6 separate regions of the Homo sapiens genome follow, and all the other regions are linked to region 4. The links come from fine-mapping of genetic effects on gene expression. A gene starts in region 4. Each other region holds a variant in brackets. All regions are shown on one strand. Distances are from middle to middle.

What was found.
Region 1: its variant is fine-mapped to the expression of TIGD3 in whole blood (TOPMed, PIP above 0.99).
Region 2: its variant is fine-mapped to the expression of TIGD3 in whole blood (TOPMed, PIP 0.99).
Region 3: its variant is fine-mapped to the expression of TIGD3 in whole blood (INTERVAL, PIP above 0.99).
Region 5: its variant is fine-mapped to the expression of TIGD3 in whole blood (INTERVAL, PIP above 0.99).
Region 6: its variant is fine-mapped to the expression of TIGD3 in whole blood (INTERVAL, PIP 0.94).

The regions. Positions count from the first base shown.
Region 1 is chr11:65,329,913-65,334,983 of GRCh38, forward strand. DPF2 (double PHD fingers 2) reads left to right here and starts at 3,940. Exons shown (of 11, transcript NM_006268.5): 1 at 3,940-4,006. The coding sequence starts at 3,975. RefSeq lists an enhancer at 4,192-4,241 and a silencer at 4,292-4,381. The variant C/T (reference allele first, on the strand shown) is at 2,754.
Region 2 is chr11:65,262,521-65,267,591 of GRCh38, forward strand. It overlaps POLA2 (DNA polymerase alpha 2, accessory subunit), which reads left to right. Exons shown (of 18, transcript NM_002689.4): 2 at 4,062-4,186; 3 at 4,957-5,048. Among named protein-coding and RNA genes, the nearest start is that of POLA2, 3.1 kb to the left of the region's middle. RefSeq lists an enhancer at 1-353. The variant G/A (reference allele first, on the strand shown) is at 2,433.
Region 3 is chr11:65,272,981-65,278,051 of GRCh38, forward strand. It overlaps POLA2 (DNA polymerase alpha 2, accessory subunit), which reads left to right. Exons shown (of 18, transcript NM_002689.4): 5 at 2,912-3,018. Among named protein-coding and RNA genes, the nearest start is that of POLA2, 14 kb to the left of the region's middle. The variant G/T (reference allele first, on the strand shown) is at 2,323.
Region 4 is chr11:65,352,201-65,357,270 of GRCh38, forward strand. TIGD3 (tigger transposable element derived 3) reads left to right here and starts at 2,551. Exons shown (of 2, transcript NM_145719.3): 1 at 2,551-2,757; 2 at 3,593-5,070. The coding sequence starts at 3,609. The coding sequence ends at 5,024. DPF2 (double PHD fingers 2) reads left to right here. Exons shown (of 11, transcript NM_006268.5): 11 at 1-2,062. RefSeq lists silencers at 2,279-2,338, 2,429-2,748, 2,769-2,828, 2,839-3,008, 3,069-3,258.
Region 5 is chr11:65,204,133-65,209,191 of GRCh38, forward strand. It overlaps CAPN1 (calpain 1), which reads left to right. Exons shown (of 22, transcript NM_005186.4): 11 at 551-726; 12 at 1,578-1,589; 13 at 2,331-2,542; 14 at 2,648-2,687; 15 at 3,923-3,988; 16 at 4,073-4,130. Among named protein-coding and RNA genes, the nearest start is that of CAPN1, 25 kb to the left of the region's middle. RefSeq lists enhancers at 1-816, 858-1,047. The variant G/A (reference allele first, on the strand shown) is at 2,169.
Region 6 is chr11:65,218,445-65,223,515 of GRCh38, forward strand. It overlaps the pseudogene SLC22A20P. Among named protein-coding and RNA genes, the nearest start is that of CAPN1, 39 kb to the left of the region's middle. RefSeq lists a silencer at 3,322-3,551. The variant G/A (reference allele first, on the strand shown) is at 2,113.

The DNA.
Region 1 (5,071 bases), 22 kb before region 4:
GGGAGTTCCTCGGATTTTTCTCCCTGCCCCCACTGGGTAATAGCAATCTTAAGCTTTACAATTGGAATTGATCGCCCCAGCCAACAGTGGGACCCGCTTTTTATTTTCTTGCCCAGTGGCATGTGGAGCGAAATATGGCCTACTGACGGACGATCTGATCGTGATTTAGAGAAACTTACTGCGCCCCCTGGTGGAAGCATTATTCCCTTGGGTCTTAAAAGCTCTAAATCAGCCAGAGCGCAGAGTTGAGATTCCAAGAATGTGCATGTAAAATTCCTACTCCGTGATTCCTGTCTGTCAGAGAAACACTATATATACTGTTTTCTATATAGAGAGAGTACCTGTTGTTCGGCGACGTAACATGTCTTTCTTTCTTTCTTTTTTTTTTTTTGAGACAGGGTCTTGCTCTGTCACCCAGGCTGGAGTACAGTGGAGCCATCTTGGCTCACTGCAAACTCCACCTCCTGGGTTCAAGCGATTCTCATGCCTTAGCCTCCCAAGTAGATGGGATTACAGGCACCACCACCACGCCCGGCTAACTTTTGTATTTTTTGTAGAGACTGGGTTTCACCATGTTGGCCTGGCTTGTCTCGAACTCCTGGCCTCAAGTGATCTGCCAGCCTCAGCCTCCCAAAGTGCTGGGATTACAGGCGTGAAACACCACGCCCAGCCCGTAACAGCATTATGTGTAATAGCTCCAAACTGGAAATAACCCAAATGCCCATCAGCAGTAATATGGATTAAACAGCAATGTAAGAACTATTACCACAAAAGGACATGAATGAATCTCAGCCAGGCATGGTGGTTCGCGCCTGTAATCCCAACACTTCAGGAGGCCAGAACGCAAGGAATGCTCAAGGCCAGCCTGGGCAACATAGTGAGACCCTGTCTCTATAAAAAAAAAAATCAAAAATTAGCTGGGCATGGTGGCGTGTGCCTATAGTCCCAGAGAGGCTGAGGTGGGAGGATTGCTTGAGTCAGGGATGTAGAGGTTGCAGTGAGCCAAGATTGTGCCACTGAGATTTTTTTTTTTTTTTTTTGAGACACTGTCTTTTTTTTTTTGAGACGGAGTTTTGCTCTATTGTCCAGGCTGGAGTGCAACGGCACAATCTCAGCTCACCACAACCTCCGCCTCCTGGGTTCAAGCAATGCTTCTGCCTCAGCCTCCCAAGTAGCTGAGATTACAGGCGCACACCACCACGCCCAGCTAATTTTTTTGTATTTTTAGTAGAGACGGGGTTTCACCATGTTGGTCAGGCTGGTCTCGAACTCCTGACCTCATGATCCACCCGCCTCGGCCTACCAAAGTGCTAGGATTACAGGCATGAGCCACCATGCCTGGCTGACGCTGTCTTAAAAAAAAAAAAAAAAAGATTAGTCAGGGTGTAGTGGTGTGCCTGTAGTCTCAGCTACTCGAGAAGCTGAGGTGGGAGAATTACTTAAGCCTGGGAGGTCGAAGCTGCAATGAGCCATGATTACACGACTGCACTCAGCCTGGATGACAAAGTAAGACCCTGTCTTAAAAAAAAAAAAAATCTCAAAAATGTAATACTGTAGACAAAGCATTGTGGGGGCTGAAAAAAAAAAGGAAAAAATTAATATTGAACAAAAGAAGCCAAATTCAAAATAGGACATATTGTATGATTCCATTGACATACAGTTACACAGACACACTAATCTTTAGGGCTAGAAGCATGAGATGGCTACTGAGGTGCTAGTGATGTCTTTTTCTTCATCTGGGTAGTGGTTACACAGGTTTGTCTATTTTGTAAAGATCAATCAAGCTACAATTATTTTGCATGGTATACCTGCATCAAACCATCTCGTGTACCCATAAATATATACACCTACGATGTACCCACAAAAATTAAAAAATTGAAAAAAATTAGTCAAGCTATGAACCCGGAAGGCGGAGGTTGCAGTGAGCCGAGATCACGCCATTGCACTCCAGCCTGGGCAACAAGAGGGAAACTCCGTCTCAAAAAAAAAAAAAAAAAAATTAGTCAAGCTACATAAGATCTATGTGCTTCTCTTTATGTATATTTCAATTAAAAGTTTGAATTTAAAAATAGTACTAATAATAAATAGGCTAGCTGCATATAATTGGAAAGGCAGCTTATGAACCCAGCATCAATAGCTTTCAGTTCTTTTAGGATTGTTTAAGAAAAGGTTACATCAGCTGGCCAGGCGTGGTAGCTCATGCCTGTAATCCCAGCACTTGAAAGCCTAGGCGGGCGGAACACATGAGGTCAGGAGTTCGAGACCAACCTGGCCAACGTGGTAAAACTCTGTCTCTACAAAAAATACAAAAATTAGCTGGGGGCACCTGTAATCCCAGCTACTCGGAAAGCTGAGGCAGGAGAATCACTTGAACCCAGGAGGTGGAGGTTGCAGTGAGCTGAGATAGTGCCACTGCACTCTAGCCTGGGCTGGAAGGAAGAATTTGTTAAGGAGCGACAAGAGCAAAACTCCGTCTCAAAATAAATAAATAAATAAATATAAACAAATAATGTTGTTACGAACATTCTTGTACAGCTTTATTTTTTTTTTTTTGAGACGGAGTCTCGCTCTGTCACCCAGGCTGGAGTGCAGTGGCGCGATCTTGGCTCACTGCAAACTCCGCCTCCCAGGTTCACGCCATTCTCCCACCTCAGCCTCTCCAGTAGCTGGGATTACAGGCGTCCGCCACCATGCCCGGCTAATTTTGTTTTTGTATTTTTAGTAGAGATGGGGTTTCACCATGTTAGCCAGGA[C/T]GGTCTCGATCTCCTGACCTCGTGATCCGCCCACCGTGGCCTCCCAAAGTGCTGGTATTACAAGCGTGAACCAATGCTCCTGGCCTGTTTTTTTTTGTTTTTTTTTTTTAAGAGACAGGATCTTGCTATGTTGCCCAGGCTGGTCTTGAACCCCTGGGCTCAAGTGATTCTCCCACCTCACCCTCTCAAGTAGCTGGGATTACAGGCATGAGGCATTGCACTCAGCTTCTTGTACAGCTTTCTTGTGTGTATATCCAGGAGTGGACTTTGCTGGGTCATAGGGTATGTGTATTTTCAGCTTTAGTGATTATATTTATATATATATATATATATATACATATGTATATATATACATATGTATATATATGTGTATATATATATATGTATATATGTGTATATATATATGTGTATATATATATGTATATATATTTTTTTTCCTTTTTTTTTTTTTTTTTCTTGAGATGGAGCCTCGCTCTGTTGCCCAGGCTGGAGTGCAGTGATGTGGCTCCAGTGGCTCACTGGAGCCTCAAACTCCTGGGCTCAAGTGATCCTCCCACCTCAGCCTCCCTAGTAGCTGGGATTACAGGCATGCACCACCATGCCCAGCTAATCTTTTTTCTTTTTCTTTTTTTCCTTTATTTATTTATTTATTTATTGAGAAGGAGTCTCGCTCTGTCGCCCAGGCTGGAGTGCAGTGGCGCGATCTCGGCTCACTGCAAACTCCGCCTCCCGGGTTCACGCCATTCTCCTGCCTCAGCCTCCCGAGTAGCTGGGACTACAGGCGCTCGCCACCACACCCGGCTAATTTTTTGTATTTTTAGTAGAGACGGGGTTTCACCGTGTTAGCCAGGATGGTCTCCATGTCCTGACCTCGTGATCCGCCCGCCTCGGCCTCCCAAAGTGCTGGGATTACAGGCGTGAGCCACCGCGCCCGGCCCCGGCTCCTGCTCCTCTAAATATTAGAGGCAAGCCTCGAACCGGAGCTCCGGGATGCATGCCAATCTCCGGTTGCGCCTGCGCGTCGGGCTCCCGTGGGGTCCACGCATTTCCTACCCGGCCCCCGCGAACAGGCGTAAAGCTCTTTCTTCAGTGCTCGCTCTAGTGCGCGCGCCCGGACGGCGCCTGCGCAGAGGGCAAGGAACCTGGTACCCCGGTGCGGTCCCGGCGCCTGCGCGCTGCGGACTGTGGGGCTTCTCGGCCCGAGGCAGAGGAACAGGGAAGATGGCGGCTGTGGTGGAGAATGTAGTGAAGCTGTGAGTGGTCGTTTCTTTCTCTCCTAGGGCGGCAGGTTTTGTAAAGGGCCTGGGAGTAGGGGGCGGTGGGGGAAGGGACTAGGCGGAGAGAGGGACATCCCCGGGAAAGCCATGTTGCGACTCCTGGTGGGGAGGGCAACAGGAGACTCCGGAGAAGACGTTGCGCTTCTTTGGAAACTTGTGGAGGCCCTGGTGGGGGCACACTGGAGCCCCGACGGGCGGCATCCCTGCGGGGCTGTGTGGCCTCAGCGTTCCTCGGGGCTGACGGTTTCCAGAGCATGGCGCCCTGCCTGCACGCGAGACTCACCGTCCCGGTCCTCTCCCGAGACGCCTCAGTCCGGAGGAGCGGGGCCGAGGCCCGGGCGGCCCTACGGCTGGCCCGCCGCCCACCCCGCCCCGTCCCGTCCCGTTCGCTGCAGCAACAGGCTCGGCGGCCCCTGCGGAGTGCACTGCGGGGCTGGCTGTTTCAGTTCCAGGCAGCCCCGTGATGTTTGGGAGGATCTTGGGTGGCAGGTACCTAAGACTACAAATATTCTTGGGAAGAATTTATCGAGGAGCGGATCCAGAAGGGAAGGAACTTCAGGGGAGTGGGCCTTGGCCCCGTCCAGTAGCAGCCATCAAAAACCTGCAACTGGACCGAAGCCGTTCAGGACAGCTTAGCCTAAAGGGGCATCTAGGTGGGCATTCTTCCTATTATACGATACCATTGTGCTGGTCAGATTTCAAGCAAAGTTAAAGTTAATAGCTGTTGGGGCCATGGACGCTGGCCTATGAACTGCTTCCTGTGAGTTAAAGATGCTTTGGGACTTGATTTATTCCTACAGAAGAATCAGAATGAGTTTTAGATTGGGTTAATGCATGGTGGGCGAATAGAGCTTCTTTTAATGGGTATGTTGGGCTTGGTGCAAGGGTGGGAAAATTGAGTGGTGTCTAGCTGTCCAGTCAGGGTTTTTGCATTTTGACTGGATGACGAGGTAAAGGTTCGGTAACTCTTCTAAGGGACTCACAGCTTCTCATCTGTCTTTGTCGTGGCCTGAGCCCCACTCTTCCTAAGAGCCTTTTTAA
Region 2 (5,071 bases), 90 kb before region 4:
GTTTTGAGATTTAGGATGTGGGGACTTTGAAATGCCCACCGGGTACCGCTTGGATGCCAAATCAAAAATAGGAATATGCAGCACGATTTTAAACCAACTCGAAGTTCCCGAAAGGCGGAATTGGGATGTGCTAGATAGAGACTAGGCACTGGTGGCACCTGAGTTTGGAAATTGTTGAAGCCCCGGTAACAAAGCAACAGATGTGGGGGTTTTGAAATGTAGCTTTTTATTCTTGGCTCCTCCCTTTCCAGCCTACACCTTAAACCTCTGCTGATCCATCAGTTATTTTATCATAGCTGTTGGTGGTCTGTGCAAATATGAATCCCTTGAGGTAGGTTCCTAAAATTGAATTTGAGCTGTGGAAGGAGCTTTAGGGAGCTTTACAGATGGAGAAACAGACAAGGAAAGCTAATTGCCTGAGCTGTCTGTGAAGCCAGGTGTCCTGCCTTGGAGTCCCGTGCTGCATCATACGGGTCCATCGTGTTGGTCAAGCTGTAGAGCAGTGTAAGGAGTCATTTGAAGCAAAGCCTGGGAGATGTGGAAGTTCTAGAATCGGTATGAATGTGCACCTGCCTTAACCACTCAACACTTTGAACTTCTTATATACAAAAAGATAACGAAACGTTAATTTATGGTGAGAAATTCCTTTCAGAAACCAGAATACTTCAAGTCTTCATGCCCAGTGCCTTCTCTCTCTCTCTTTTTTTTTTTTTTTTTTTTTGACAGTCTTGTTTTATCACCCAGGCTGGAGTGCAGTGGTGCAATCTCGGCTCACTTCAGCCTCCGCCTCCCAGGTTCAAGCGATTCTCCTGCCTCAGCCTCCCAAGTAGCTGGGATTACAGGCGCCCGCCACCAGGCCCGACTAATTTTTTTTTGTACTTTTAGTAGAGAAGGGGTTTCACCATGTAGGCCAGACTGCTCTCGAACTCCTGACCTCAAGTGATCCACCCACCTTGGCCTTCCAAAGTGCTGGGATTACAGGCATAAGCCAGCAGGCTCGGTCCTTCTCTTTTTAAAAGAAGACTAGCCAGGTGTGGTGGCTCACGCCTGTAATCCCAGCATTTTGGGAGGCCAAGGCAGGTGGATAATCTGAAGTCGAGAATTTGAGACCAGCCTGACCAACATGGAGAAACCCTGTCTCTACTAAAAATACAAAATTAGTCGGGCGTGGTGGCGCATGCCTGTAATCCCAGCTACTCAGGAGGCTGAGGCGGAAGAATCGCTTGAACATGAGAGGCAGAGGTTGTGGTGAGCCGAGATCACACCATTGCACTCTAGCCTGGGCAACAGGAGCGAGACTCTGTCTCAAAAAAAAAAAAAAGACTTAAGTGGAAAACCTGATCATAGTCAGAAATGTATGTGGTAAGCATGAAATCAGCATGAGAGAAATTAGTTATGTGAACCAGATTTGTAAAGGCTTCAGGCCAAGATGCCAGTTGCTTTCATCTCATGGCAATGGCTTTGGAATTGTGGACTTTGGATCATCAGTAACTTCAGTGGCACCTTAATGTTTCCTGACAGTCAACCGTATTTCCCTGTTTTTTTTGTTGTTGTTTGTTTTGTTTTTTGAGATGGAGTTTCTCATTGCCCAGGCTGGAGTGCAATGGTGCAATCTTGGCTCACTGCAACCTCTGCCTCCCGAGTTCAAGCGGTTCTCCTGCCTCAGCCTCCCGAGTAGCTGGGATTACAGGCTCCCGCCACCACGCCCGGCTAATTTTTTGTATTTTTAGTAGAGATGGGGTTTCGCCATGTTGGGCAGGCTGATCTCGAACCCCTGACCTCCAGTGATCCTCCCACCTCGGCCTCCCAAAGTGCTGGGATTATAGGTGTGAGCCACCACACCTGTTCTACTTTTTGTATTTTCAGTAGAGACAAGGTTTCACCATGTTGGCCAGGCTGGTCTTCAACTCCTGACCTCAGGTGATCCGCCCACCCTGGCCTCCCAAAGTGCTGGGATTACACTGCGCCAGGCCCCTGGTCTCTTTACTCTGAGTCTTCCAGATGATTGTTTTCCACCTTCTCCTGTAACATCCTTCTGTCCCACCCTCACTCTCAGCTGACAAATTTCTATTATTTGCTGAAAAATGTAGAAGCATTAGAAAACTTCGATCAGCTACCACCATTATGTCTCACTGACCCATATCTGTGGCATATACCTAGCCTTCTTTCCTATTATAATGAATAAGCTTTCCGTATTCCTAGCAAAATCCAAGTCCTCCACTTGAGTCCTAAACCCCATTCCTTCTGAAGCAATTAAGGACATCACTGGTAATTCTCCTGTCTTACATATTTTCTATTTTCCTTGCTACAAGATTTTTTTCCTACTAGTATAGAAATGTGCTTCCAATCTTGCCTTTAAAATACTCTGTTGACCCTACTTCCCACTCCAGTTCTCTCCTTCCCAATTACAGCAGACCTCAAAAGGGTCGGCC[G/A]GGTGCGGTGGCTCACGCCTGTAATCCGAGCACTTTGGGAGGCGGAGGAGGGCGGATCACAAGGTCAAGAGATGGAGACCATCCTGGCCAACGTGGTGAAACCCGGTCTCTACTTAAAATACAAAAATTAGCTGGGCATGGTGGCGCATGCCTGTAGTCCCAGCTACTTGGGAGGCTGAGACAGGAGAATCGCTTGAATCGGGGAGGTGGAGGTTGCAATGAGCCGAGATCGTGCCACTGCATTCCAGCCTGGCAACAGAGTGCAACTCTGTCTCCAAAAAAAAAAGGGGGGGGGCCTTGCCATCTTTAAATATTTCCTCCTTAAATCCATTTCAGTAAGTTCTTTTGTTGCCACCACTTCACCAAAGCTGCTCTACTCAAGGTCACCAGTGACCTTCACCATGCTAAAACCAGTGATGAATTTTCAGTCCTCATCTTGAATTGAATTAGCACCGGCACTTGACACTGTTTGTCATTTTTTCTTTTTTTAAACACATTTTTCTTTTAGCTTCTTAGACACTACTAGTTTTTCTTTCTTTTTTTTCTGAGACAGGGTCTTGCTCTGTTGCCCAGGCTGGAGTATAATGGGCAAATCACAGCTCACTGCAGCCTCAACCTCCTTGGCTCAAGCAATCCTTCCACCTCAGCCCCCAAGTAGCTGTAACTACAGGCACATGCCACCAAGCCCACCTAATTGTTGTATTTTTTATAGAAACGGTTTCACCCTGTTGCCCAAGCTGGTCTCAAACTTCTGGGTTCAAACAGTCTGCCCACCTCAACCTCACAAAATACTGGATTACAGGCGTGAGCCACTGCATCCGGCTTACTCCTAGTTTTTCTTCAGCTTTGCTTGTGTCACCGCTTCTCAGGCTTTGCCGATTCATCCTCAGAGGCCCTAAGGCGCCCCAAGACTCAAGCCTGGGATCTTTTCTCCCTTCTAGATACGCTCACTCCCTTGGCGATCTCACCTGGGGTCTCATAGCTTTATATCCCATGTATTTACTGATGGTTCCCAAATTTATACCTCCGCCCACAACCCTTGCCTGAACTACAGGCTGGTTTGTTCAGCCTGCTGTCTCCAGTTGGATGTCTAAATGGCACCTCAAACTCTGCATGTCTAAAACTAAGCTCCTGGTATCTCCTCTCTCTCCTCAGAGTAGTTCCTCTGGCTCTTTTCCCCATCTCAGTTAATAGGGACGCCACTCTTCCTGTTGCACAGGCTAAAAATATCAGCATCATCCTTGACTTTCTTTTTCTCATACCTTACATTCAGTTAGCAGATCCCACTGGCTTCACTTCCAGCATGTAAAGTCCTATCCAGAGTCCAGCCACTTCTCGCCATCTCCACTGCCACCACCTTGATCCAAGCCACCATCATCTCTCACCTGGGCTTTTCCATGATTCTTTAATTGGTCCCCCTGATTCTGCCCTTATCCTCTTTTGTCTCCCCTCAGTGGTGAGCTTTGTAAGGACAAGGATGCTTCTGTTTTCTCATTGCCCAAAACAGTGCCTGGCACTAATAGATTCTGAATAAACATTGATGGAGTAAACCAGGATTATTTTTGCTTTTCTAGGTGAAACTTCGAGAAATGAACTAAGTTTTTACTTGTCCAATTTTCCTTTCTACAGTGGTAGAGCTTTGTGTTCAGTATGGACAGAATGAGGAGGGAATGGTAGGCGAGCTTATAGCCTTCTGCACCAGCACACATAAAGTTGGCCTTACCTCAGAGATCCTGAACTCTTTTGAGCATGAGGTAAGAACAAAATGAAAGCAAACTAATAATGTGATTCTCCATTTCTGCTCTACAGGGGAGGCATTGTGATATATTGAGAGGAGTGTGGGCTTTCGAGTCAGGCCTGGATTCCAGTCCCAGTGTGAGCTTGGACAAACTATGTCCCTGAGCCTCAGTTTCCTTTTCTGACATTGGGTCTAATAATCTGTATTTTTTATGATTGTTATAAGAATTAAATGGGGCTGGGCGCCGTGGCTCATGCCCATAATCCCAGAACTTTGGGAGGCCGAGGCAGGCAGATCACAAGGTCAGGAGTTCAAGACCAGCCTGGCCAACGTGGTGAAACCCTGTCTCTACTAAAAATACAAAAATTAGTTGGGCATGGTGGCAGGCGCCTGTAATCCCAGGTACTCGGAAAGCTGAGGAAGGAGAATCGCTTGAACCGAGGAGGTGGAGGTTGCAGTGAGCTGAGATTGCGCCACTGCACTCCAGCCTGGGACAGAGCGAGACTCCATCTCAAAAAAAAAAGAAATGAGAATGGACATAAAGCACTTAAAACTATGCCCAGCAGGTGATAAGTCTTCACCAAATAATTGGTATTATTAGGATTGTTATATGTTATAGACAGTCATGGGATGTCTTTGTTTTTAGTCTGTGTGTATCTTAATTCTTTGAGGAATGTTAGATCTTTGATTATATTTTGAATACCTTTTATTATCTCAAGGCTTTTGAAAACACCTCTGCTATTACTTGACTATGAAGTACTGTATTCACTATCTTTTCTTTTTCAGTTTCTGAGCAAAAGATTATCGAAAGCCAGGCATAGTACCTGCAAGGACAGTGGCCATGCAGGAGCTAGAGACATTGTTTCCATTCAAGAGCTGTATCCTTTTCTGCTGAAGGTCT
Region 3 (5,071 bases), 79 kb before region 4:
AGCCTGGGCAATCAGAGCAAAACTCCATCTCAAAAAAAAAAAAGAAAAGATGAAACTAGCCAGGCGCAGTGGCTTATGCCTGTAATCCTAGCACTTTGGGAGGCCAAGGTGGATGGATCACCTGAGGTCAGGAGTTCGAGACCAGCCTGGCCAAAATGGCAAAACCCCATCTCTACTAAAAATACAAAAATTATCCCGGCATGGTGGCACATGCCTGTAATCCCAGCTACTCAGGAGGCTGAGGCAGGAGAATTGCCTGAACCCAGGAGGCGGAGGTTACAGTGAGCTGAGATCATGCCACTGCACACTCCACCCTGGGCAACCCTCCGTCTCAAAAAACAAAAACAACAACAACAAAAAAACATGATGAAATTGGCATTAAGTGTTAATAATGAATCGTATGAGCTTGGTTAAAGGGAGCGCATCCTTGAGAACTGGTACTGGAGTTGGTGAACACTATTGGATTTCAGCCCTGAGGCTGAGGACTAGAACACCAGACTGTGCCTTGTTTACCAAAGTGCTGTCACCTTGCCACGTCTTGCGAGACAGACTGTCATTCTCTCAAAATATCCCTGCCCCACAACACTGGCCGTGGAGTGTTGTAGCCCACTGTATATTAGGAGAATCTTTTGGAGGGATAGTTTGAGAAAATGTGTTAAAATTATAAAATCTTTTTTTTTTAATTATAAAAAAAATAAAGGCAGGGTGTCACTATGTTGCTCAGGCTGGTCTTGAACTCCTGAGCTCAAGTGATCCTCCTGCCTCAGCCTCCTAAAATGCTAGGATTACAGGCACGAGCCACCATCCCTGGCCAAATTCATAAAATCTTTTTCTATCATTTGACCCAGTAATTCTCCCTAGGGGGAAAAAAAAAACTCTTCTGAAGAAATAATTCAAATTATGGGAAAAGCTGTATGCATGAAGATACGCATTTTAGCATTTTTTTAATTTAAAATCTTAATTTGCCAAATCACTTTTCACCTGAGACTCAGCATTACTTGTAATCACTGAAAATTACAAGCAACCCATAATCCAGCAATAGAGAAGTAATTATGTAAATCATTGTAGGTCAGTTTAATTAAATAACACAGCTACTAAAAAGGATAAAGACCTGTAATCCCAGCACTTTGGGAGGCCGAGGCAGGTGGATCACCTGAGATCAGGAGTTCGAGACCAGCCTGACCAACATGGCGAAACTCACATCTCTACTAGAAATACAAAATTAGCTGGGCGTGGTGGTGCATGCCTGTAGTCCCAGCTACTCAAGAGGCTGAGGCCAGAGAATCACTTGAACACGGGAGGTGGAGTTGCAGTGAGCTGAGGTTGCAGTGAGCCGAGATCGCACATCGCACTCCAGCCTGGGCAACAAGAGCGAAGTGAAATTCCGTCTCGGAAAAAAAAAAAGGGAAAAAGATTGGGTCAGGTGCAGTAGCTCATGGGTGTAATTCCAGCATTTTGGGAGGCCGAGGCAGGTGGATCAATTGAGGTCAGGAGTTTGAGACCAGCCTGGCCAACATGACAAAACCCCATCTCTACTAAAGATACAAAAATTAGCTGGATGTGGTGGCGGGCACCTGTAGTCCCAGCTACTCTAGAGGCTGAGGCAGCAGCATCGCTTGAACCCAGGAGGCAGAGGTTGTAGTGAGCCGAGATCTTGCCACTGTGCCCCAGCGTGGGTGACAGTGACTCCATCTCAAAAAAAAAAAAAAGATTAAAAATGTAACAGTGTGGGAAAATGTTGATAATTAATATAGAGTGAAAAAATTCAGCACATAAAATACTTAGGTTTATATTTAAACTAAGATTATGACTATAATTTGTATATTCTAATTTGTGTATTTGTAATCTTAATATACAAATTATAAGGCACCACGCCTGGCTTTTCTTTTTCCTCCTCAGACATGAGGTCTCGCCGTTGCCCAGGCTGGTCTTGAACTCCTGGGCTCAGGTGATCCTCCCACCTTGACCTCCCAGAGTGCTGGGATTACAGGCATGAGCCACCACCCCTGGCCTAGAAAAATATTAAAATACCATTAAGGAATATTCAAAACTGGTTATTATATCAGGGTAGTAGAATAAGGGATTTTTTTTTTAATCTATTTTCCATTGCAGCTGGTTTTGATGGTTTTGAATCTGTTCTCTGGCATTCTGTCCTGCAGTTGCCACCAGCTGACCACTCTGCAATATAACTTCTTAAACTTGCAGCCAGGAGGAGCCCTAGGGCAGGGAAAGCTGCAGACTAGCTGGCTTCCTGGCTGCTATCCAGGCAAGGATTTTGTTTTCTCTATTACAGTCGATTATCCTAGACTTTAGGGAGCAATA[G/T]GTCTCTGGACTGTAGGTTTCAGCCTCCGTTCTGGGCTTATCTTTGGATTCTTGTTGATGAGTCAAAAAAAAAAAAAAAAAAAAGGAGTGACCATCAGATGTTTGCTAACTCTTCAAGTATGAGCTCAACCTTGTTATCTGCCTGGAGTCATTTCCTTTGAAAATGTATGGTAGACTTTGCCAAAGTAAGTAGTAATGTCCCATTCCTTCTCAGGAAAATGTGTACACATAGATCAAAACTATGCATTGTAAAACTCATATCTGTTTGAAAACATAGAGGTAGGGACAGAAAGTAAACATATGAAGGATTTGACAGGACACATTACCAGCCTGGTGGTCCTTTTTGGAAAATGTTTGCTTTCTCGTAATTGCCTTCAAAATAGGGACAGTGTCCTGAATGTTGGTTACAGTTGTTGAAGATTTCTTTTTGAGATTATGCTTGGATGATGGGGCCTTAAGAAGAGAACCCACCCAGTCCTATTTTGTGCCTTCGTTTGGACATGTTCTCCCTTTTCTTCCAAGGTACTATACACTTAATTAGTATTGGGTCTAGTAGGACTGAGATTTTGTTTTCCTTTTTTTTCCCTAGGGTTCTCAGAAGCGAGCTATCTCTACCCCAGAAACCCCCCTAACAAAAAGGAGTGTGTCAACTCGTAGCCCCCATCAGCTACTCTCACCGTCAAGTTTCTCTCCAAGGTATGGATCATAATTCATTCAAGTGCCATAAAGCTGGCCTCCCCTCCCCTTTCTCTGGCTATCTGAGGAAGGCTAACAGCAGAGTTATTAATTAACTATAGGTGGGCATGTACCTCTGCAGTGAATTGGCTTGAAAGCCTATTGCTCTCTGCCTTCCTTGCTCTCCTTTTCTTTGTGGAAAATTACTGTTTCTTACGGTAATTAAGGAAACTCACTTTCCACCCACTTTTCTAGGGCTCATTTCCTAGATCGGGAACTGATATCTTGTATTGAAAACAACCTGTCTATTCAGAAGTCTAAGAGTCTTAACAGGTCTTGTCAGTAGAGGCAAGTAGGTTTCCACCTGCTTCTGTTTGTGTTTTGTTGGGTTTCTTTTTCTTTCTTTTCATCTAAAGTTTTTTTTTTTAAAGAAAAGCACATATCTTTGTTCATAATGTTTCATAACCTGTTTATTGTTTCCAAGTCAGGTTAGAACTAGTTTCTGAGAGTTTTCTTGTCACTGTGACTCTGCCCTGACTTAATTGGTATTTTGTCCCTCTGCCACCATTGCACATAAATCCACAAAGATCATATGTAATTTTTTGAAATCCATAAATGACACGTCTCATATTAGAGAATTCCATAGGCAAGTGCTCTGCTGAGTAGATGGGTTTTTAGGAGTTTCCACATCAAGATGAGGCTCCGGAGCAGTAGTATTAACCCTTCAGGGAAACACCAACTGCCAGGAGTCATTACCTCTACTTTGGATCACTTCTAGATGAACCAGAGCTTAAGATTGTTCAACTCTATCACTTTTTTTTTTTTTTTTTTTGAGATGGACTCTCACTCTGTCACCCAGGCTGGAGTGCAGTGGCACCATCTTGGCTTACTGAAGCCTCTGCCTCCCGGTTCAAGCGATTCTCCTGCCTCAGCTTCCCGAGTAGCTGGGTCTACAGGCGCTCGCCACCATGCCTGGCTAATTTTTGTATTTTTAGTAGAGACGAGGTTTCGCCTGTTGGCCAGGCTGATCTTGCACTCCTGACCTCAGGTGATCCACCCGCCTTGGCCTCCCAAAGTGTAGGATGTCAAGCATGTGCCACTGCTCTCGGCCTTTTCAGCTCTATCACTTTAGAAAGGTGGTGATAGAAGCTCTGCAGTCATTCAAGGTGAGTGGTCATTGGATTTTTTTTTTCTTTTCTTTCTTTTTTTTTTTTTTTTAAGATAGGCTTTTACTCTGTTGCCCAGGCTGGAGTGCAGTGGCACAACTATAGCTCACTGTAGCCTTGGCCTTCCAGGCTCAGGTGATCCTCCTACCTCAGCCTCCTGAGTAGCTGGGACTACAGGTGTATGCTACCAAGCCCAGCTAATTTTTATAATTTTTGTAGAGATGGGGTTTTACCATGTTGCTCAAGCTGGTCTCGAACTCCTGGCCTCAAGCAATCTGCCTGCCTTAGCCTCCCAAAGTACTGGGATTACAGGCATGAGCCAGCATGCCTGGCAGTAATTGGATTTTGAAGGACAGTTTTACTTTAGGGTAGTCTACTGCTGCTTTGGGGAGTTCTCAGGCTTTTTGGAAGAAAGCTTTCTAGACTTAAGAGCATCTTTGCAACCTGGTATGTAGGGATGGTTCTTATAGACGTGCCAGCACCATTGCAGGAGTTATATTCTCCAAATGTCAATACAATGCTCTGAAACCTGTAGATCTGTTTACAACTGTCCTCATGTGAGCATCTTGCTGCATTAAAGGGCCTGCTGTAATGGATGGCTCATGGAGCTTCCCAGGGAAGAGCTTGGAGAAGCTGGCAAAATGCTGCCTAGTCATTTTTTAATGCACACTAATAAAGCTGACAGCAGAAACTGGTTTTGTAATGTATGAAAGTAACTTCTAAACTATTCACGTAGAGGTGGCACTGGAGATTGAGATAATTAATTGAGCTCATTTTCTGTAGGCTGTGAAAAGAAAGAATGATGGCATTAATTGCGATGGTGCCCCACATAAAACTGGTTCCCGCAGAGTTTCAGTGCATTAAACAAAGCCTGTTTTAAATAGACCTCTCTGTACGGCGTGTTTACA
Region 4 (5,070 bases):
CACGTCCACAAGGAGCTTTTCATGCCCCTGTGCCGCATAGCCTCACCTCTTTCCTCCAGAGTGGCTCTCTGCGGCCCTGTGTTCCTGCTACAGAGTGTTCTTTTCTGGAGTCAGGATGTTCTCGGTCACCCTCCTGGTTCTGCCCTGTCCCATTCCACCCCACCCCAGGGGGAACAGTAGCTTCACCTTGTTATTCCCATTGCTCTCCTGGCTCACTCTTACGGTCGGTCTCCAGTGACTGAAGCATTCCCCACCCTTGGAATTTCTCATCTTCTGCCTCCCTTCCTACTCCTTTTGGTTTTGTGGGGAGAGGGGAAGGATCAGGGGGCCAGGCCAGCAGCTCGGGGGCCACAAGGAGATGGATAATGTGCCTGTTTTTTAACACAACAAAAAAGCCTACCTCCAAAATCCCCTTTTTGTTCTTCCTGGACCTGGGCATTCAGCCTCCTGCTCTTAACTGAATTGGGAGCCTCTGCCACCTGCCCCGTGTATCCTGGCTCTCAGCTCATGGGGAAGCCACATAGACATCCCTTTCTTCCCTTGCACGCTCGCTAGCAGCTGGTAAGGTCTTCACACCCTGATTCCTCAAGTTTTCTGCTTAGTGGCACTGACATTAAGTAGTGGGGGGACAGTCCATGCCAGGACACCCTGGAGTAGCCTTCCCCCTTGGCCGTGGGCAGGCCCTAACTCACTGTCGCTTTGGAGTTGAGGTGTCTTTTTTTTTTCTTTCTTTAGTTCCTGTATTCTAAACATTAGTAAAAATAAATGTTTTTACACAGAGCCCTCTGCTGGATGGTTTATCTCCTGCCTTTCTCCATTAAGAAGGCCATTTCATCCTAAGATTTCCATGATGGTGGTTTTTTTTTTTAATGTTTTGAAATACAGCTTTTTTCCCCCCAAATTAAAATTTTTTTGTGGAACCCCAATATGTAAAGCGAATATAAAATTGGTTATTTTGTTTTGTTACATAAATTCAAGTTTATAACAATTCTTTGTTATAAAGAACAATGAAGCTGTTTTGATCAATACAAAATTTGGGTTAAAATCAACTTTAACATCTATTTTTATGTTTCAGTTGATTTGGAGAATTCTCCTAGTCTTGGATACATAGATGGAAGTGATGACAGGTTTATAACAGTTGACCTTGCAATCTCAGACATTTAAAACAGGACCAGAAGTTTATATAAATATAATTAATAAGCAAACTAATGACATCACCATGGGACACACACAAAAGTTCTTGCAGGAGCAGGGTCTGTGTGGCTTCAGTTGCCTGCAGCGCTCCCAGGCCAGAGCAAGTGCTCTAGGATCTGAACTGCCCGCAGTGCAGCCCTGCAGCCTTTCCCAGGGCACGTTGATGTGCACACAGTTTCCCTGAAGGCAAAGTGAACATGTGGAGAGCTTACGTGGCAGCGCGTATGTCTTCAGTGTGTGTTTTAGAAGTCCAACTGTTGTTTTTATGTTTTTAAAGGAAAGATTTGAATCAAGCAGTTATGGGCCCCCTGAAGTATCCTTTTTTCTAGAACATTCTGAAAGTCATCCTTGCCTATGGGAAGCCTAGGCCGGCCTGCACTGTTATGTTCAATAAATAAGCAGGGTGCTCTGGGCTGGGGATTGTGTGAGGAGCAGAGCGCAGCCCGTCCTCATGCTTTTCCACTGAAGTAGGCCAGGCAGAGAGGGAGTACAGCAATGGATGCGCTTTGGCAGCTGAGTAGTCCGAGAGCCAGAAAAGAAATGTGGAAAATAAGAACGCTGTAGCAGGCCTAGGTGAGGAAATTTAGGAAGGGTTTGCGGGAGGTAGGATTTGAGATGGGTCTTGGAGAGTTGGACAGTGTCAGCCGGTAGGACGGGGGTGCGGACGGAAGCCTGTGAGGAAGGCAGAGGATGCGGAGCTGTGAGCGGAGGGAGCAGCGAGGCTGGAGAGCAGCTGGGCTGCGGGTCAAGACGTCTGCGTTTAATTCGGGACTGAAGGTTAGCAGGGAAGGGAACGATGCCAGATCTTGAGTTTAAGAACTTGAATCTTGTAAAGTACCAAATCTAATAAAATACTCGTCCTAAATCATTACTGGCCCAAGCATGCAGTGTTTCCGTGGCCGACAGACTCGAGCCAGCGCTGTCCATGGTAACCAGCTTTTGTGTGGCTTAAAGCTTGCATCCATTTTCTCCTTTCATCGTTTTCCCAAAACAATTCCGTGAGGGCTGTTAGCCCTGCTTGGTAGACGAAGAAGCCGATGCGGTCTAGGGTCACGGCCAGGGAGGCTTTGGGACGCCAAGTCAGCTCGGCGGTCACCACACCACCTACAGGGCTCGTCGGGCCCTCGGGGTCGGCGGCTGCTGGAGGCGCCCAGGGGAGTCCTGCTGGTTCCTGGCTCCGCCTCCCGCCCCTCCGCGCTAGAAGCCCCGCCCCCAGAGGGGCTCGACGAACCGCCACTTCCGCAACGTCCAATGAAACTTAGCCGGGGGAGGGACGGGGCGCCACTGAGGACCAATCTGCTTGGGCCGGGGCGGGGCTGCGGCGGGTGGGTGCAGAGGGGCCGCACCGCGGACTTCGCAGCCGGGAGAGAGCCCGGCGCGGGCGGCGCGCACGGGACTCTGCTGTGCGCGCGCCCGCCCGCCCGCCGTCCGCGCAGGCCCTCGGTCCGCTCTGCCCTCGGGGTCGTGGCGCCCATCCCTCCCCTGTTCTGCTGTCGCCGCCCGGACAGGGGCTCGGGAGCCGGGCTGGGGGCAGGGGCTGGAGCCGCGGGACCAGCGCCTGAGGTGGGTGCGGAGCGGGAGGCCGGGCGGGCGGGCGCCTGGGGCCGCCCCGCCGACATACTCCGGGTCGAGGGGGAGTGACCGGCCAGGGCACGGAGTCCGGCTGCCGGCCTGCCTGGGTCCGGGCGTTCGTTCCCGCGCCCTGGGACCCTCCCAGGCCACCACCCTCCCCGCGGGGACACCCCGCCCCTCCGCTGCCCGCAGCCTCCTCAGGCCTCCCGCCCTTTGTCGCTCGTGCACCTGCGCCCTCGGCCCTGCCCTCTCGCTCCCCTCAGGACTGACCGTCGCCTAGCCTCCCTCTCAGGACCCGGCACCAAATTAGCCTCGCTCCTTCAGACACCCTCTGTCCCCTTTGTCGTCTGTACACCTGTCACCTCAACTCTGTGTGCATCCACCCACCTCCCACCCCCCAGCGGCGTCATCTGAATCCAGCCCAAGCCGCCTCCCACTCCCTCCCGGGGGCTCCTCCCCCGCAGCCCCGTAGCCCCACACCTGCCCCCTCGGCCCCAGTCCCAGGCCCTCCCCCGTCCGTATGCCTTTGTTATCTCTGCAGCTGTCCCCTGCACTTTTCATCCTTCTTCCCGAGTGAGGCCAGACCCCAGCCCAGACTCCCCTGTCCTTCTGAGTGGAGAGACGCCCCCTCCCCAGCTCTGCCCTGGCATCCTGGGGACGGGGCCAGCCGGCTTCCACTCGGCCTAGCCACTTCCTCTTTCAGCGGGTCCAGTCTCACCCGGTGCCTGCGCAAGTCCTCATCTAATCTCTTTTCCCTCCTGCGCTCCTTTCCTAGCTCTTCCGGCCTCAGATTACTCTACCCGCTCAATCTTTCCTCCCCGCACAGGTGCCCCGGAGAGGCCATGGAGCTGAGCAGCAAGAAGAAGCTTCACGCCCTGTCCCTGGCCGAGAAGATCCAGGTGCTGGAACTCCTGGATGAGTCCAAGATGTCCCAGTCGGAGGTGGCCCGGCGCTTCCAGGTTTCCCAGCCCCAGATCTCGCGCATCTGCAAGAATAAGGAGAAGCTGCTGGCGGACTGGTGCAGCGGCACAGCCAACCGAGAGCGCAAGCGCAAGCGGGAGTCCAAGTACAGCGGGATCGACGAGGCTCTGCTCTGCTGGTACCACATTGCCCGGGCCAAGGCCTGGGACGTGACGGGGCCCATGCTGCTCCACAAAGCCAAGGAGCTGGCCGATATCATGGGCCAGGACTTCGTGCCCAGCATCGGCTGGCTGGTCCGCTGGAAACGCCGAAACAACGTCGGCTTTGGGGCCCGCCATGTTCTTGCGCCTTCATTCCCCCCTGAGCCACCTCCCCCGGGGCTCACATCCCAGGCTCAGCTGCCTCTTTCCCTAAAAGACTTCTCTCCAGAGGACGTGTTTGGCTGTGCTGAATTGCCCTTGCTGTATCGGGCAGTGCCCGGCAGCTTTGGTGCATGTGATCAAGTACAGGTGCTGCTGTGTGCCAACAGCAGGGGCACCGAGAAGCGGCGGGTACTGCTGGGTGGGCTCCAGGCTGCCCCGAGATGCTTCTTTGGGATCCGCAGTGAGGCTCTGCCTGCCTCCTACCACCCGGACCTGGGCATCCCCTGGTTAGAGTGGTTGGCACAGTTTGACCGGGACATGGGACAGCAGGGCCGACAGGTGGCTTTGCTGCTGGCTGCCCGAGTGGTGGAGGAGCTGGCAGGCCTGCCTGGGCTCTACCACGTGAAGCTCTTGCCTCTGGCCGCCTCTAGCACCACGCCTCCCCTGCCCAGCTCAGTGGTCCGGGCCTTTAAGGCCCATTACCGACACCGGCTGTTGGGCAAACTGGCTGCCATCCAAAGCGAGAGGGATGGCACCTCGCTGGCCGAGGCCGGGGCAGGCATCACCGTGCTGGACGCCCTGCACGTGGCGTCTGCCGCCTGGGCCAAGGTGCCTCCTCAGCTCATTTTCAGCAGCTTCATTCAAGAAGGGCTGGCTCCCGGCAAAACGCCCCCGTCCTCGCACAAAACCTCTGAGATGCCACCAGTCCCCGGCGGGCTGAGCCTGGAGGAGTTTTCCCGCTTTGTGGACCTGGAGGGTGAGGAGCCAAGGTCTGGAGTATGTAAGGAGGAGATAGGCACTGAAGACGAGAAGGGGGACAGAGAGGGTGCCTTTGAGCCCCTGCCCACCAAAGCTGATGCCCTCCGGGCCCTGGGCACCTTGAGGAGGTGGTTTGAATGCAACAGCACTTCTCCTGAGCTATTCGAAAAATTCTACGACTGTGAGGAGGAGGTGGAGCGGCTTTGCTGCCTATGAAGGCGCCTTCACTGCTTGCCAGAGCCCCTTCCTCTCTTGTTTCCCA
Region 5 (5,059 bases), 150 kb before region 4:
CCTTTTAGAGTCCTAATGCAGTCACATGCCTCCTCGCTGCAAGCTGTGGGAGGGTTCTTACCCTTTGCTTCAGTCCACACGCCCTAGTCCCTGGCCGGCTCCTGGGAGCTCTGCGGCCTCCCTGGGTCTCCGTGTTTCCTAGAGCCTCCGTAAGTGCTCCCTGTCCGCAGATGCGTGGGGCCCTTCCTCACCTCTGCTCTGGGGTGCCCTCCGCCTGGCTTCTGCTTCTCAGCAGCTTCCCAGGGCAGCCCCTTCGGGTCTCAGCGCATAGGTCCCCTACTCTGATCTACTCCTGCTTGCTTTTTTTTGCAGTTGCTCTGCTCGCTAACCTAACGGACTTGCTCAGACTTAAGCCTCTAGTTTCCAAATGCAGGCCGTGAGGGCATGGACCGAGCCTGGCCCAGCCTGCCCATCACCCTGCATGTTCCAGGTGCTCAATAATATTTGTTGAATGAATGAATGCGTGCACAGGGACGTGCTGAGGAGGCTTGGGGGCCAATTGGCTCTGCCCCGCCCTGCCTCTGATCCCCGCCTCCTCACCTGCCCGCAGCCACCTTCTGGGTGAACCCTCAGTTCAAGATCCGGCTGGATGAGACGGATGACCCGGACGACTACGGGGACCGCGAGTCAGGCTGCAGCTTCGTGCTCGCCCTTATGCAGAAGCACCGTCGCCGCGAGCGCCGCTTCGGCCGCGACATGGAGACTATTGGCTTCGCGGTCTACGAGGTCAGGAGGGTGGATCACCGGTGGATCTCACTGAGCAGGCAGAGGACCTGGCGCCCCCGACCCGCAGTGCAGGCGGGCTTCCACCAGGGGGCGCCAGGGACCATGCCCTTCCCCACAAATTCCCCTCCACTCCCCCCACCATCCTGAGGGCTGGGAAATCTCAGCCTCCAGGAGGCACCTGCTGAGGCCCTCTGGCCGAAAGAGAGGAAGGGGGTTGGCTCAGGGAAGGGAGATTCTGGGATTCACCTCACGCTTAGAGGGCGGCCTGCTGCTCTTGGAGGAGGGAGCTGGCTCAGCTGATGCCTGGGAGTACTGAGCCCTCCGTCTTGGAAGCTGTGAGCAGAAGCTGGCAGGGGAAAGATAGGGGATAGGGAGGGCCTGTCGGCCAAGGTGAGGCTGTGCCAGTCGCTCTGGGATTAGAACTCCTTGCTCTTGCCCTGTATCTGCCCTGCTTCACACACTGCCCTCAAGACAGGGAGAGAAACTTCTGGACCTCCCTGGTCGCAGTCTTGGCCCACACCCAAACCCCCTGGCAGCAGCCTGCGGTGGCCCTTTCCTGTCCCTGGGCTTTGGAACATTGCAGTTGGCCACCCCGGGGGCTGGCCTGGAGCCTCTGACTCAGAATGGAGTCCTAGGGCAAGCATTCCCAGGACCAAGAGGACCCTGCCTGAGCCCTCCCTCCTGGGGCCCTGCTGTGGTGCAGGGACCAGATCTGGGTCCCCAGGGCCCTGCCTTCTGCCTCCTTATCCCATCAGTCCCGTCTAAGAACTCAAGACCTCTGCCCAGCATGCACTGTGACCCCGCCCTGGGACAAACACACATCTCTGACTTCCCCTGTCTCTCTATTGCAGGTCCCTCCGGAGGTAGGTGTGGCACCATGACCCACCTGCAGTCACACACCCCTGATGGTGCCAGAGGGGAGCAACCCAGTGGCAAACCCACCCTGGCCTGGAGAGCTAAGAAGTCACCTTGTTTCACTGCTTGAAAAATGCTTCTCCCCACCTGTTCAGTGGGCAGAGCAAACATTGCTCTCCTGAGGGTCAGCACAGGTAGTCAGTGAGGGAGCTGGATTTGAGCCCTGGTCCTCAGAGCCCCTGTCTGACATGTACACATGAGGCTTTTCCTGCCTTGCCATCTACACCAAGTAAGTGCCAACTAGGGCGGTCCAGCAATGTCAGGAGCAGGGCATTAGACAGGCTGAGAGTTCTGTACCCTTGAGCAGTTGCTTAAGCTCCGAGCCTGTGTTTGTGTCTGTAAAATGGGTGTAACAGCAGAACAGCAAATGAGGTGCCGAGTACCCTGCAGTACCTGACCTGGGGAAAGCTCCCAGTGATAATAATGACAGTGTTATTGAAACACATGCCTAATCTGCAATCCGGTGCTCCTCTCCTCTACCCTCTGCAGTGAGTAGGGTTGTTACATTTTACAGATGAGGAAACTGA[G/A]GCAAAATGTCTTGTTAGGGTCACACAGGCTGTGAGTGAGCCATGCCCCAGCTCTCCAGCCCCTTGGCCAGGACAAGGAGCCTGGAGTCTGGGTCTGGGGGTGGCCCCTGAGGGTGGGCTGAGTGGGCAGCTGCAGCCCTGCTCCCTCCTCCCTCCCACCAGCTGGTGGGCCAGCCGGCCGTACACTTGAAGCGTGACTTCTTCCTGGCCAATGCGTCTCGGGCGCGCTCAGAGCAGTTCATCAACCTGCGAGAGGTCAGCACCCGCTTCCGCCTGCCACCCGGGGAGTATGTGGTGGTGCCCTCCACCTTCGAGCCCAACAAGGAGGGCGACTTCGTGCTGCGCTTCTTCTCAGAGAAGAGTGCTGGGACTGTGTGAGTCATGGACTGGCCCCTGCCACTCTCCCCTCTCCCAGCCTCCCCTCTCAGGCCCTCTGCTGTCCCCCTCTGACTGGCTCCTTTCCTCCCCACTCTCTGCAGGGAGCTGGATGACCAGATCCAGGCCAATCTCCCCGATGAGGTGCGTGGTCCCACCCCACCAGGCCCCGTCCTCCTCTCTTCCTCACCCCTGGGTGTGTGATGGGGACCCAGGTGTCCTGTCCCCTGAGTTCCTGCTAACAGGGAAGATCCCCTCCTGGTGGAAGCCATAGGAGTAGTGCTAATCCCTCATCCGCCCAGCACTTTACAGTTTGCAGAGGACCTGTGATACTAATGGCACAGGCCCTGAGCTCTCACCCGGTGGCGGGTTTGTGCTGAGCACTTCACCTGTGTTACCTCATTTCCTCCCCACATCAACCCTGTCCGGGTCTTGTTACCATACCTCCTCTGAATGGGAAATTCAGGTTCACAGAGGTTAGGGAACTTGCCTGAGGCCATACAGTAGGGATCCAAACTCTTGCCTTTTTTTTTTTTTTTTTTTTGAGAGAGTCTCACTCTGTCACCCAGGCTGGAGTGCAATGGCGTGATCTCGGCTCACTGCAACCTCCGTCTCCTGGGTTCAGGTGATTCTCCTGCCTCAGCCTCCTGAGTAGCTGGGATTACAGGCGCACGTTACCACACCTGGCTAATTTTTGTATTTTTAGTAGAGACGGGGTTTTGCCATTTTGGTCAGGCTGGTTTCAAACTCCTGACTTCAAGTGATCCACCCACCTCGGCCTCACAAAGTGCTAGGATTACAGGTGTGAGCCACCGCACCTGGCCCAAACTCTTGCCTTTTACTCACTGAGCTGAACAGCATCCCCTTCATTTAGGTCACATGAGTGCTGGATATGGGGCGGGGCAGGGCAGGGCAGGAACGAGATTCCCTTTTCAGATTAGAAAAGTGAGACTCAAGCCGGGCTCAGTGGCTCACGCCTGTAATCCTAGCACTTTGGGAGGTTGAGGCGGGCGGATAACCTGAGGTCGGGAGTTTGAGACCAGCCTGGCCAACATGGCAAAACCCCGTCTCTACTAAAAATACAAAAATTAGCCGGGCATGGTGGTGGGCACCTTTAATCCCAGCTACTCAGGAGGCTGAGGCAGGGAGAATGGCTTGAGCCCGGGAGGCGGAGGTTGCAGTGAGCTGAGATCACGCCACTGTACTCCAGCCTGGGTGACAGAGTGAAACTCCATCTCAAAAAGAAAAGAAAAGAAAAGTGAGGCTCAGAGAAGCGAAGTGACTTGTAGCAGATATGTGACCTCAGCCCTCCCTCCAGCTGCCTCCACACGGGCAGGGCCGGGGCCTCTCTTACCTGCTTTCTCCCCTTCTCGGTCCAGCAAGTGCTCTCAGAAGAGGAGATTGACGAGAACTTCAAGGCCCTCTTCAGGCAGCTGGCAGGGGAGGTAGGTTGGGGCATGGCAGGTTGGGAGGGGCCTGTGAGGGGCAGCCCTCTCCTGGGGCAGGTGCCACCTCCTCTCTCTCCCCAGGACATGGAGATCAGCGTGAAGGAGTTGCGGACAATCCTCAATAGGATCATCAGCAAACGTGAGTCCCCGCGGGGCTGTCCCACCACCCCACCATTTCTTCCACATCAGAATCCAGGCTCCTGCTCACACATTGAGCTGAACCTCATCCCTTGGTCTGCATGAGTCGGGGAATCCTCCAGTTTTTCTGAGCCCAGTTCCCTGCCATTTCCATCCCATACTCCTCCTCCTGACCTGCCATCCTGATAATCCCTGTGCTCGGGTGCTGTGCCTTTGTGGGATTAGCAGCGCAGCCTGGCCAGGCACAGTGGCTCACACCTGTAGTCCCAACACTCTGGGAGGCCGAGGCAGGAGTCGCTTCAGCCCAGGAGTTCAACACCAGCCTGGACAATATGGAGAGACCCTGTCTCTGCAAAAAAGTACAAAAATTAGCTGGGCGTGGTGGCATGCACCTATAGTCCCAGCTACTCAGGAGGCTGAGTTGGGAGGATGGCTTGAGACCAGGGAGGTTAAGGCTGCAGTGAGCTGTGATCACATCAGTGCACTCCAGCCTGGGCAACAGAGCAAGACCCTGTCTCAAAAAAAAAAGCAGGAGCAGCACCTTAGTGCCAAAGAAAAGTCTACCTTTCCTCCCAGAGCCTCCTGGGCCAGGCTGAGTGGCTTGGGGAACACCACGTGACTGGCTTCACTCCCCAGGGCAGACAACTGCTGGCCTCTCATCCCCTCCCCTCCCCTTTGCTGCCACTGACCTCCATCCACACGGTTTCCTTAAGCAGAGCTTTTCTCCTCCTCTTCTCTGCTAGTGAAGCACTGCTTACCCTCCTAGCCTACAGCAAGCCCTGCCCTGCCCCATCTTTCTACCCAATTTCTCGCTCTTCTGTTTCACACTCATTTCTTTTTACTTTGGACTAATTGTGGCTGTTGGGACTTTGGCTTGATTGCTAAAATACTTTACTTGTACTTCCTGATGATACAAACAATCCTGCCCAC
Region 6 (5,071 bases), 130 kb before region 4:
AAGAAATCTTGGGACCAGAGAACCAGGACACCTGACCTCCCCTCCCTCTCCCAGCACACAGCGGGATCTCAGCCAATCCCAGCCTACACAGCTCACTCTGCAGGGTGGGCATCCAGCCATGGCTTGAAACAGGTGTCTGAGGTCCACCTCGTGCTGGAATGGGCTCTAACACCTACACAGACACATACAGACACACACAGACACATACAGACACACATACACACGCATCAGAGACTGCCCAGCCTCTTAACACTTCCTGAGGCTGGAGAGGCCGGGCACTGTCTGGGGACATCTCCGCCTGTAAAGACGACTTTGTAGAGATTCCATCGAGTGCCCTGGAGCTCCCACCACAGGCCATGCCCTGCCTCGGGTCCCACCGCACAAGTGTGGTGACCCTCCATACATATATGCCTCCCCTCATGTTTGTTCCTGCGCACACTGTTCTGTATCTTGATTCTTTCACTTAACCAAGCTGTCACTGGTCCACTGCCTGATAGAGAGCCTCCTAGTGCCAGGAGAGGCTCTAGAGGTTGCGGTGAACACAGCCCTGCTCCTTGGAGTCCATGTTCTAGCGAGGCGAGATATCACCAGCATGCATAACGAATCGTATAGTATGTTCGAAGACAGTAAGTGCTACAGAGGAAAACCGAAGCCTGGAAAGGGGATAAGAATGGCCGGGTTGGCCAGGCGCAGTGACTCATGCCTGTAATCCCAGCACTTTGGGAGGCCAAGGCGGGCAGATCGCCTGAGGTCAGGAGTTTGAGACCAGCCTGGCCAACATGGTGAAACCCTGTCTCTACTACAAATACAATTAGCCCGAGCATGGTGGCGGGCGCCTGTAATCCCAGCTACTCGGGAGGCTGAGGCAAGAGAATTGCTTGACCCGGGAGGTGGAGGTTGCTGTGAGCCGAGATCGCACCACTGCACTCCAGCCTGGGTGATGGAGTGAGATTCTGCCTCAACAAAACAAACAAACAAAAAATCCCACAAAGAATGGCCAGGTTGGAGGGGAGGGGTCTGCAGTTTTAATTAGCGTGGTTTGGGAAAGACTCACTGAAAAGGGGTCATTTTGAGCAAAACTGGAAGGAGTTGAGGGAATGAGCCCTGCAGGTTTCTGGGGTAGAACATTCCAGGCAGAGGGAACTGCCAGGCAGAGGCCCTGCAGGGGAAAGTGTGCCCAGGGTGAAGAGCAAGGAGGGCCCTGTGGCTGAAGCAGAGTTGGGAGGTGGGCGACAGGTGAGGTCGGGGAGGGCAGTTCTGCAGGACCCTGTGTCCAGCGTTCTAGGACTTCAGCTTTGTCTCTGAATGAGACAAGAGCCACCGGAGGATTTTGACCAGGGAGAGACCTGATCTGATTTAGGATTTGAGATCTGATAAGATCTATGTGGCTGCCATGTGACACCAGGACGGAAGCAGGGAGGCCGGTTAAGGGGCTGCTGCTGTCATCAAGCAAGAGACCAGGTTGAACTGGGCCACGGTGGCAGCAGCAGAGGCAGTGAGGAGAGCTTAGATTCTGGCTTAATTCTGAAGGATTTGCTGAAGGACTGGACGCACAGGCTTCTTGCCCATTGGGAAGAAGCTTCCTCATTAATTTGTTACAGCTGCCTCGTAAGGGTGTGTCATCATTACTTAACCAGTCCCCTACAGATGGACATTCAGGTTGTTCCAAGTTTTGCTATTTATAAAAATTAGTATTTTCTGTCTTTGCATGGGGTTGAGCACCTCTGCCCATTTTCCTTTTAGCTTGTTGGCCGTTTTCTAATTGATTTGTGAAAACTCTTTCAGTATTAGGGAAATTAGTCTTTCTTTCTTCTTTCTTTCTTTTTTTATTTTTTGAGACAGAGTCTTTAGCTCTGTCGCCCAGGCTGGAGTGTAGTGGTCCAATTCATTTCAGCTCACTGCAACCTTCGCCTCCCAGGTTCAAGCGATTCTTGTGCCTCAGCCACTCGAGTAGCTGGGATTACAGGCACACAACACCATGCCCGGCTAATTTTTGTATTTTTAGTAGAGACGGGGTTTCGCCATGTTGTCCAGGCTTGTCTCAAACACCTGACTCAAGTGACCCGCCCGACTCAGCCTCCCAACGTGCTGGGATTACAGGAGTGAGCCCCC[G/A]CGCCCAGCCCAAAATTAGTCCTTTATCTGCTAGTTGGGTTACAACTATATTTTTACATTTTTTGTTGACGTTATGGCTTGACTTACGGTGTTTTGTTTTGTTTTATTCCAATGCGGACATTTTTTATTTTTACGACTCCAAGTTTGTCAACCTCCCCTTTTATTGCCTCTGGGTTTTGTGACTTTCTTGGAAAAGCCTTTCCCTACTCTAAGATTATAAAATAATCTACCATGATTTCTTCTGGCATTGTTGTGGTTTTATTGTTTATTGAGTTCTTTGATCCACTTAGAATTTATCTGGAGTGCAGTAGGGACACCTTTGCCTGTGTCTCAGAGGGTCTCTGGAATGAGTTTAAGTGGTCAGAATCATAAGGGGGGGTGTGGTGAATTAACCACATGGGTAGCTGAATGCCGCTGAATGTCACTGTTTTCTCCCCAGTTGTGGAGTGGATGCCCACACGGGGCCGGACTGTGGCGGGTATTTTGCTGGGGTATTCCTTCACCCTGGGCCAGCTCATCCTGGCTGGGGTAGCCTACCTGATTCGCCCCTGGCGGTGCCTGCAGTTTGCCATCTCTGCTCCTTTCCTGATCTTTTTCCTCTATTCTTGGTATGTCCTGAACAGAGTGGGGTGGGGGAGGGTGCACCTGTGTGGCCGAGTCTTCACCTGGCCCTGTGAGAGGTTGGGGTGTGCAGTGACCGGGGCTTGCTGGACTTGACAGGGGACACAAAGGATGGCAGGCGTTCATGGAGGCTGCAAGCTCTCAAGTCCTCACGAATGGCTACTGGGACGCTCTGGTAAAATCCCTTGCATTAGTGTGGGGCCCTGGAACGTCCCAAGAGCTTTTGCCTTCATCAACTCCTTCGCATCCCTCAACACTTCATAAGTACTCTAAGTGCTTATAAAGTTATAAGAATATAACTGGGGCATATATAAGAGGGTAATGAAGCACAGCCCAGAGAGGGCCCATGACTCACACAAGGCCACACAGCTGGGGTCAGAACCAGATTCAAAACCGGGTCTGGGATAGGTGTGGTGGCTCACGTCTGTAATCCCAGCACTTTGGGAGGCTGAGGTGGGCAGATCACTTGAGGTCAGGAGTTCGAGACCAGCCTGGCCAACATGGTGAAACCCCATCTCTACAAAAAAAATAATTAAATAAATAAAATAAAATTAGCCAGGCATGGTGGTGGGTGCTTGTAATCCCAGCTACTCGGGAGGCTGAGGTAGGCGAATCACTTGAATCTGGGAGGCAGAAGTTGCAATGAGCCGAGATTGCTCCACTGTGCTCCAGCCTGGGCGACAGAGTGAGACTTGGTCCAAAAAAAAAAAAAAAAAAAAAATGCCACGGGTCTGTTGAAATCCTAAGTCCTCTGTAGTTTTGTTTTTTTTTTTTTGGTTTTTTTTTTGTTTTGAGATGGAGTTTCCCTCTGTTACCCAGGCTGGAGTGCAGTGGCGCGATCTCGGCTCTGCAACCTCCACCTCCCAGGTTCAAGCGATTCTCCTGTCTCAGCCTCCTCCTGAGTAGCTGTGATTACAGGCACACACCACCATGCCCGGCTAGTTGTTTTGTATTTTTAGTAGAGATGGGGTTTCATTATGTTGGCCAGGCTGGTCTCAAACTCCTGACCTCAGGTGATCCACCCTCCTGGGCCTCCCAAAGTGCTGGGATTACAGGCGTGAGCCACCGTGCCTGGCCAAGTCCTCTGTAGTCTTTAAATACTGTTCAGTGAGTCTCTGTATGATGTACTGCAAAAAAAGGGAAGCTGGCATGGCCCCCAGACTTCCTGATGCTACAGACAGGAGGACAGGTCATCTTTTTTGGGTCTGAAAGAAGGTAGACAAGGGGGTATTGGGTTTGGGGAATAGAATGAGCTCTACCCAGCCCCAGATCCTTCTTCCTCCTCTCGGTCCCAGGTGGCTTCCAGAGTCATCCCGCTGGCTCCTCCTGCATGGCAAGTCCCAGTTAGCTGTACAGAATCTGCAGAAGGTGGCTGCAATGAACGGGAGGAAGGAGGAAGGGGAAAGGCTGACCAAGGAGGTAAGCGAGCTGGGAGGAAGGAAGGGTGGGAACAGTCTTCAGTCTTGCTGGCAACCTCCAGTTGTACTAGAATTTAGCAACTTCCCAGGACTCACGTGCCATCCAGGTGTAGACATTGGGAATAAACAGGACAGGCAGAGTTCTCATGTGCGAAAGATGTTGTTTAGGTATTGAATGATTGTGTGATTTAGGATAAATAATTTAACTGCTTTGCTCATCAGTCAATCCACCTTTGTAATTAGGAAATAACCCTATTAACCTTGACATCCAGTTGAAATTTTAATAAAATAATAAACTAAAATTATTAAAATAGCAACCACACAGTAAAATTACTGGGGAATCAATAACAAAAGCACCATTATAAATACCATTTATTATAAGATAGTTACCATTTATTATCAATAAGCATCATTTCTCAAGCCCCATGCCGGGCACTAGGCTGAGAGCTTTATGTATGTAATCTCATTTCATGTCTCATTTTTGACAAAGAGGAAATTGAAGTGGGGACAGGACGGGTAACTTGCCTGAGAACACACAGTAGGAAGTGGCAGAACCACTTGGAACCCCTGCTCTTATCTGACTCAATCTCCGAGTCTATACCAGGAATGGGGTGGGAGGCCCTCCAGAACCGCAGAACCTCAGTAGTGTTGGAGTTCGTGTTGGAGCTTCTCAACACCCTGGAAACAGTGTGTTGGCACTTCTCAACACCCCTCAAGTGCCATCAGTCCTTGGACGGAGCGGAGACAAGGGCCAGCCACCTCACCAAAGACCTCAACCCCAGCTCTCCTCCACACAGACGAAGGGGTTCCCAGCAGGGATGTGGGGTCCGAGCTCCCTCGCTTTCCCTGAGCAGAGTCTTCTTACCTAGGTGATGAGCTCCTACATCCAAAGCGAGTTTGCAAGTGTCTGCACCTCCAAC